2 separate regions of the Homo sapiens genome follow, and region 2 is linked to region 1. The links come from fine-mapping of genetic effects on plasma protein levels. Region 1 holds a variant in brackets. A gene starts in the other region. All regions are shown on their forward strands.

Region 1 (4,000 bases):
ACAGAATGGCTTACAGTGCCCTTTAGTGCCTTTGACCATGCTGTGTCCTCTTCTGGGAATGCTCCCTCCTCTTCCCTGACTCTCTGCACAGCCTTTCAGACTCAGCTTAGGGGTCACCCCTTCCAGGAGCCTTCCTCAAGCCTCAGGCTGTGTTAATGCCTTATCTGTTTGTTTACTTCCCACTGGAGTCTTTACTACATTGGATTTTCACTTTCCTGGCTTCCCACTCAACCGTGAGCTTCCTGAAGCAGGAACTGTGTCCCTCTGTGTCTATCTTTGGTGCCCAGCACAGTCCCCAGCACTGTCTAAACAAATGAGGGCCACTCGATGGTGAGGTAGGACTCTTACCACAGGTGATTCTGCTCCCCGAGTTGCTAAACTTGTAGCTCAGAAATTTGGTGCCACATCCACGTTTCTCCAGACGTTTGTAGCAACAGTCATGAGTGACACAGCAGCTGTGAGGAGACACCCTGTTGGGGCTCTTGTCCCACAGCTCCAGGAGGCCTGGTGCCTGTGGTCTCACCCCCTTGGACCCTGGGCAGAGACCCAGTGACTTTGCAACAGTCTAGAGCAGAAGTTCCAACATGCCGGCTGCTTTTCCAGCCAGGCCATCCTGAGACCTCTGCGCCCATCAGGAACCGGCACTGTCTTTGCAGCTCCCAGCCCTGCCTGGGCCAGAGTCTAGGAGGGTAGGGAGGGATAGGTGGCCTCACCGATCCGTTGCATCCTTGGGGGATCCTCTGCCACCCACGCCACAGTGGCAGCCGTAGAAGCCATAACTGAGTGCGGCTTCCTTTCCTGTCGTCAACTTGATCATTCTGTGGAAATTCACCAAATTCCCATGGGCCTGCAGTAGGCCTGGAAGGAAATTTGGGAGTTGTCTGGTGATGGGGCATGGGGTTCTGCGCCCTCCCTCTCTGCCCCTCTCTGCTACTCTCCTTCCTCCCAAATGGCTTCTTTTTTCCCCCTGAGAGAGGATCACTGCAATGGGAGAGAAAACTAAGGGACAAGAGTGCTTCCCTTCTGGGGCTGTCCCCCCATGCTCAGAGGTCAGGGTCAGCTCTTACCAAAGATCATGATCACTGCCAACAGTAGGAGGGTCTTCATGGTAAGAGTTCTTGGGTGACAAATGCAGATGGACTGGCCTAGCTCCTCTGCTGGGTGGTCTCAACTTCTGCCCCGGCCGTCGCTCCCCTGCTCCTCCTTGGTGGCTCTGAGACACACAGACATGCTCTCCCATCCAACCTAAGTCCAGGGTGACTTCCTCTGTCACACTCAGAGCACACAAGGAGTGCCCTCCAGCAATGCACACACACACACACACACACACACACAACCACCTCCTGACCCGTTCCCAGCTCTGCAGAATGGTTTCACACACATCAGGCCCTCAGACCTGTGGAGAACCCCATGATACACTAATGAGACCTCCCCTGTACCTCATCAGACTGAGAGTTCTTGGGAGGTTGGAACCAGGTTCCTCCCAACTACCTGGGAGGTTCCTGAGGTCAGAGGATGTGTCCCTCGCTAGACATAGCTTGCATATCCCCACACTGGATTCAAGGCTTGGAGTCTCCAAGGCACCCATGGAGGCTCGGCCTCAGTATTTTCCTCCAGAATGAAAGCATCAACCTCTCTCTTCTAGGCCTTCTAACCCCTTCCACATACACAAGTTCCCAAACACATACATGTTAACACACCTATGCCCACATACACACACTCTCGTACTTACCTGATAGTGCCAACATCCTCTCTTACACTACACTCACATACTCACTCAACACACTCATGCACACACACCCTCTCATACATATCAAATCATGCACATGCATGCACAACACAGCCACTCTCAAAGGCAGCGAATGAGCAGGAATTCTGCTCTTGACAGGACATCAGCTTCGCTGGCTCTTTACCTCTCAGAGGACTCCAGAGTTGTATCCCCAGGCCGTCTTGTTTGTTCTGCACTCCTGCTCCCCTTAAATAGCT[G/C]CTCCCTCTGGGAGGTTGGGGGTAGGTGAGGCACAAGGCTGGGGATGGGCGTGGTCAGTTGGTGGACTCAGGATTGGTCGCCCATACCCCTAGGTAATCCCTTTCCTTCCCCTCATCAGCTGGCAGGACAGAGTTGAGGATTGGGAAACCTTACGTGTCAGTAGCTGATGCCAAAACACATTTCAGGCAGTTTTGCAGTCTTTCCATGGAGTAAATTCCCATAACCAGCTCTGGGTGTGATCAACGGTCAGCCACCTCCCTGCAATCGCCTCTAAGGGGGGCAGAGACTGTCTGCTGTTGCAGGCTGTGGACTCATTTGCACACCCAAAGGGACTACCAATTGCTGAGCAAGGATTGCTCCCTTCTGCTCAATGTGGCATTTGGGAATAGAAAAGAGGGCTTTTAGTGGTACTCATTCATTCAGCCGCTCAATCATTCATTCACAGGAAGTATGTCCTGGGCCTCTACCATGTTCCAGCACCTGTGCAGGCCTCACGTGTGCACCCCACAGTCCACCAGGGAGAGAGTTTAATGGGGGTGGATTTCCCTTCCCACTAACTTGGGCCAGGGCCTCAACTTTCTCTTCTTATTCTTCTTTCTTCTTTTCCTCCACCCCTGTCTCATATGAGCTTCTAAACCTGGAAAAAGCCAGAGGCTATCCTTGAAGTTCCCACCAAAGCACTGCCTTCACTTTATTCCCCATCCTCACCTGTTTGGAGACAGGGCAGGTGAATGCTCCCTGGATCTGTTGCTCTTTTTCCTTCAGCCTTCGGGCTGACACTGACTCCAGCTTTAATTCATAAAGTAAATATCTTTTTCATTGCTCTCCAGCACATGCTAAGAATTTAGCTTCCACCGCCTTAAGTAAACACTCTGCGATACCAGTCCTAAAAAAGTCACTGTGGCAGGGGCTGTGGTGCTTGTGAACATTCCATCTGTTCCCTACACTCTAGAGCCCCTTGCAGGGATGGAGACCTAGGGCCCTGCTGCTGACTGGTAAAACATGAGCACTGGTATGAAGGGTCACTTCCAGGTTTCTCCAGCAAGGGGACTATGAGATGCAACTCCCCAGCCCTTCCCTGCCCCACTGGTAGAACCAGAAGATGAAAGCAATCTGGGGTGTAAGAATCATGGCACGGAAGACAGTTGTCCTAGAAAGTCCTGCAGCTCACAGGGGTCTTAGTGTGAGTGAGAAATAGACTTTTGTTGTATTAAGCTGATGATAATTGAGATGGGCAGTTGCTGGAGCATAACCTAATCTATCCCAAGAGCCATCAAACAGCTTTCCTCTCGAGAATACCATTTACCTCCAGTGCTCGACTGTGTAAGGGGTTGGACTGTGGTCCTCCTTCCTGCTCTCAGTTCCTGTGTTGGAGTCCCGGTACCTTAGAATGTGATCTTATTTAAAAATAGGGTCATTGCAGATATAATTAGTTAAGAGGAGATCACTAGGGCAGCTAGGATGGGCCCTAATCCAAGATGACAGATGTCATTACAAAAATGGGAAATTTGGAGACAGGCAGGCACACTGGGAGAAGGCCATACAAAGATGAAGGCAGAGATCAGGGTGAAGCTTCTACAAGCCAAGGAATGGCAAAGATTACCAGAAAACACTGGAAGCTAGGAGAGAGGGATGGAGCAGATTCTCCCTCACAGCCCTCAGAAGGAATCAACCCTGTTGGGCCCTTTGATTTCTGCCACTGGAACTGTTAGACAATAAAATGTCTGTTGTGTAAGCCACAAAGTACCTAATACAAAGCCGAAGCAAACTAACACAACCTCCAGGGATCTCTGTTGGCTTCCTTCACTCTTCTTATTCTGGGTTGCCAGTCCTATAGCAGTTGGCTTTATGGCCACGTCAGGGTTCAGAGGTCTCAACCCCCCGGGGTAGACCACTGCCTTTGTTAAACATTGCACTTTCGGAAACAGTAGTTCCTCCAATAGGCAGAACCGCCTCCCTCTCTGTATATCTGGATAGCCCTGGTCCAGGCTTCAGTTGAAAGAAATACTCCAA
Region 2 (4,532 bases), not on the chromosome of region 1:
TTGAGGCAACCAACGTTGGGCAAGGACACTAAGAAAAGAGGTTAGGGACCAAAGGGTTGGGTGGGTGGTTGTGCAACTTCATACCTTTGAGCAGAGTACTGTCCACAGCCATGGCGGTCACACGTCCGGATCTCATTGGAAGACTTGCCAGCACATATATTAGCCCATGGCCCTGCCAGTGCTAAAAAGGAGAAAAGTGAGAGCAGAGCTCCTGGCCTCAGACATTTCCTATCCCCATTTGCCTTATCAGTCACACAGTTGATCCTGACAATTCTGTTTTCACTGTAGTTTTCCCTGGACTTTATGTATTTATGGGAAGATCGTCCTTCCAGAATTTTATTTCCTGATTCAGATGTAAAATTGGCTTTTTCCCTGGCCACAGAATTCTGCTTTGTGACGTTAGAGTATCAGTGAATACAATTTTTTTTTTTTTTGGATCGGAGTCTCACTCTGTTGCCAAGCTGGAGCACAGTGGCGTGATCTCAGCTGACTTCAACCTCCATCTCCTGGGTTCAAGTGATTCTCCTTCCCCAGCCGCCTGAGTAGCTGGGACTACAGGTGCGCACCACCACACCCAGCTAATTTTTGTATTTTTAGTAGAGACGGAGTTTCACCATGTTGGTCAGGACGGTCTTGATCTCTTGACCTCGTGATCTGCCTGCCTCAGCCTCCCAAAGTGCAGGGATTACAGGCGTGAGCCACTGCGCCCAGCTGAATGTGTTTCTTTATAAGCATTGGCCTCCATCATTATACTTTGCTTCAGATCCATTAGTAAATGGTATAAGTTGTGCTTTTCTATTTTTCTTTGCTCATTATCTGCCATGGGGATCATTATTTTTAGATTAAGCAAAAATAATAAAATAGCATGGCTCAGAAAATAATTTTAGAAATTGTAATTTTGAAATGGTTAGTTCCACTAATCAAATCCAAGCAAATGTTTGAATTAAAGGAGAAACGAACTCTGTACTAGCCAAGTTTGTTTAACACTAGATAAATCTCTCATAGTTGCCAACATGGAAGAGGGAGATTCTTAAAAATAATCTGAAATGTCAAACCAATTTAGCCTAGACTGAGATTAGGGGTGAAGGTAGGAGAAGGAGTAGAACCAATTATATGAAAAATTATGAAACGTGGAGGAGGGGCTGCTTTCTCAGCAGACTTGGTGCAAACTTTGTTTCAGGCACAATTTGTTTCTTTACTATAGTAAGCACTTAATAAATGTTCAATGGAATTAAATGTCCTGGATTTCCAGTGTTAACATTCACAGAGAGATACAGTGAGCACACTCAACCTTGCACTTTGAAACAAACAAGCAAAAGCGAGAGCCTGGTAATTTGACTATTGATTTTATTTAAAGACATTTTACTCTTCATTAATACCTATCCTGTGAAGAGAACCTACAGAATATGGCCATTAAGCCTCTTCTTTAAAATACTTTTAAAAGGTGGGTTTCAAAAGTTTTATGCCTTGGAGCCAAGCTCCAAATCAACACCTTGATCAAGATATAATCCCATCACTTTGGCAACTAATATTTATCCTTGGGAATTGAGGCAAATATCAGACAGTGTAGTAATTTATTCACTTTTTCCTCCTTCGGTGAGTATTAAGGGAGCCATCCCTTTGTCTTAATCCATACCAGTCTCTGTATTAGTATCTGTATCAGAATTTGATTTTGATCAAAATCAGAATCAAATATTTATATCAACTTTTTATTATCTAGTTTTGTTCTAGTTAAGTCCCAGACCCAGACTCAGACTGAAAGGCTTTGTAATGTCTTCTCAACCCACTATTATGTTTCCCTCATTAAAGAACCGGAACATTCCATTTAAATTACTTAAAACATCCTCAGGACCATGTGTCATTCCTATTTCATTTTTAATAGCCAAATACACAAGTCTTTGTTGTGATCATGCTATTAATGACTTTTTAATCTTTTTAGTCTTCCCCTGAAATCAGTTTTTAAAAGTTAATCAATATTCTAAAATTGCACTTTCGACTTACCGGTAGAAATCAGACCAGCCAAAAGGAGGGCTTTGGTGGAAAACATCTGGTTTTACTTCCTTTAGTTTCTTCCTCTGATTAGAGTTGCCCCCACACTCTCTTTGAAGAATATTCAAGTTTGAATGAATACTTCCTAGCTATTTAGCCTTAGAATTCTGCATCTCTCATTTCTTTAGTGTGAGACACAAAAAGTTTAAGAGGATGGAGCAAGTCAAGTTCTAATATTCCATGGATAGCTATTTGATTTGCAGGTAGGGCCTATGTAAAAGCCTTTGATCTGAAGAAGAAGCCAATTATATTGGAAATACTGACTAAATATTAACAGAAAATGATAAGGCTAGGTGCATATCGACAGTCTTCTGGGCTGTGGCTTGTAGGAGAATGTTCGTGCGAATGATGGAATATTTAGTGCTGCCTGCTGGTAGATCTTTCTTTTATTTCCTTGATAGCACATATTTCAGAAGAAAATTGGTCATTAATAATGTGTAGCCCTTCATAACATATTCCTTAATATATCCCTTAGGTGTTTTTGAATTCTCAGTTTAATTATATTTCACCTGTGTAATATTTGCAAATAACTTTAATATTTTAATAAAATTGCATGTATTCACCTTAAATATGTGATTTTTAAATGTTTTCTTGTTTATGATAATGGTAAGTTAACACCATTAAAAGCATCCATCAATAAAGGAAAAAAGATTAATTATAATATAGTCATTGATATGGTTTGGATCTGTGTCCCCACCCAAATCTCATGTTCAATTGTAATCCCCAGTGTTGGAGGTGGGGCCTGGTGAGAGGTGATTGAATTATGGGGCTAGAGTGCTCATGAATGGGTTGGCATCATCCCCTTAGTGCTGTTGTCCTGATAGTGAGTGAGTGAGTTATGGTGAGATCCGGTTGTTTAAAAGTGTGTAGCACCTCCCCTGTTCTCACTTCCTCCTGCTTCAGCCGTGTAAGACATGCCTGCTTGCCCTTTGCCTTCCGCCATGATTTTCAGTTTCCTGAGACGTCCCAAGAAGCTACCATGCTTTCTGTACCTCTTTTCTTTATAAATTACCCAATCTCAGGTATTTCTTTATAGCAATGCAAGAACAGAATAATACAGTCATACAACAGAGTAAAATATAACAATTTAAATGAAGACAATCTACATGTATTAACACAGCTAGATCTCTAGATATACTGTTGAATTAAAAAGCTATTTTTAGAATTATATATATAGTATCATACTATTTATAATATGTAAAATCTGAAAACAAGTATATTAATCTTAATGAATGCTGTATGTATAATAAAAATATGCACAGACTACCTTTAAGGTACTAATTACTTCTGGATAGTGAGAGAAATAAAACCGTGGAAGGATATACAGAGTACATAAACTCTAAAATATTTTATTTCTAAAAAAAGAAAAAAATCAGAAGCAAATATGTTAAAATATTAATTTGTTAATTATTGGAGATAGACACATGGATGTTATGTTACCCTGTACTTTTCTGGGGAATTAAATTTTCAGTGTGTTTCAAATATATGTTAGCAGCTCCTTTTTAGCTTAATATTAGATGAGCACCTGGAATTTTCTATGGAAGCTTCCCCATTTAAATTATGTGCCAGTAGCTGTGGGAGATTGGGATTGTAGCCCCAGTTCTTCACCCTCTCTGCATCCACACCTTTGCCATGTTTCATGGGGGCAAAGGGAACTTTCCTCACCCTTGATTTTGGGTTTAGCTGTGTAGCTTTGACCACTAAGATGAGGCAGAAGTGGCAGTGGGTCGGGAAAGCCTGGGTCTTCTGGGGCCTTAGTCTTTGCACACTCCTTCCTGTGTTTCTACATCGCCGTGAGGCAGATGATCCTGCTGCCCTGGGAAGGGAATGGATGCCATGCAGAGCACAGTTGCCCCTACAAAATCCAGCTTAGTATACCCTATGAATGTATGGGCTTAACTGGCTGTCATTGGAAGCCACTGAGTTTTGGTGTGGTATGTCACACAACAATAACTAAACGATGCCAATGAGATTATGCACCTAATTGTTTTTGCTTCACACACAACCTTTCAAGGAGGCATCTAATGTATACAATATAGAATGCCAACGCATTGAATACATCAAGGATCTGAGTCAATGTACTGAAAGAATAGGTTAGTGAAACAAAACAGATGATTCAGAAATAGGCACAAATATATACAGCATGTAGTATACAATAGAAGTCATACTTTAAATGATTAGAGGAAATATAAGTCATTCTATTAACTGTATTGAGACAACAACTGGCAAGAAATAAAAGTGCAGTCTAGGCGTGGTGGCTCATGCATGTAATCCTAGCACTTTGTGAGGCCTGTGCGGGAGGATCACTTGAGGCCAGGAGATCGAGACGAGCCTAGGCAACATAGCAAAACCCCATTCCTACAAAACATTTTTAAAACTTAGTCAGGCATGGTGTGTGTGTACGCAGTCCTAGCTACTTGGGAGGCTGAGGCAGAAGGAATATTTGAATCCAGGAGTTTGAAGTTACAGTGAGCTACGATCAT

Which allele goes with the higher level. Alleles are on the strand shown, and positions count from the first base shown. The strength of an association depends on the size of the effect and on how common the allele is.
For the plasma level of the protein whose gene starts at base 2,197 in region 2, allele C in region 1 goes with a higher level than allele G (weak association).

The links. PIP is the posterior inclusion probability: the model's chance that the variant is causal. The UK Biobank Pharma Proteomics Project read protein levels with antibody pairs (Olink). The fine-mapping took linkage between variants from a reference panel, not from the people measured, so its PIPs are less certain.
Region 2: it holds the start of LECT2, and the variant in region 1 is fine-mapped to the plasma level of the LECT2 protein (UK Biobank, PIP 0.90).

The regions. Positions count from the first base shown.
Region 1 is chr1:19,977,667-19,981,666 of GRCh38, forward strand. PLA2G2A (phospholipase A2 group IIA) reads right to left here and starts at 1,952. Exons shown (of 5, transcript NM_001395463.1): 1 at 1,914-1,952; 2 at 1,068-1,213; 3 at 714-858; 4 at 349-455. The coding sequence starts at 1,107. RefSeq lists an enhancer at 596-1,095. The variant G/C (reference allele first, on the strand shown) is at 1,987.
Region 2 is chr5:135,952,787-135,957,318 of GRCh38, forward strand. LECT2 (leukocyte cell derived chemotaxin 2) reads right to left here and starts at 2,197. Exons shown (of 4, transcript NM_002302.3): 1 at 2,002-2,197; 2 at 85-181. The coding sequence starts at 2,047.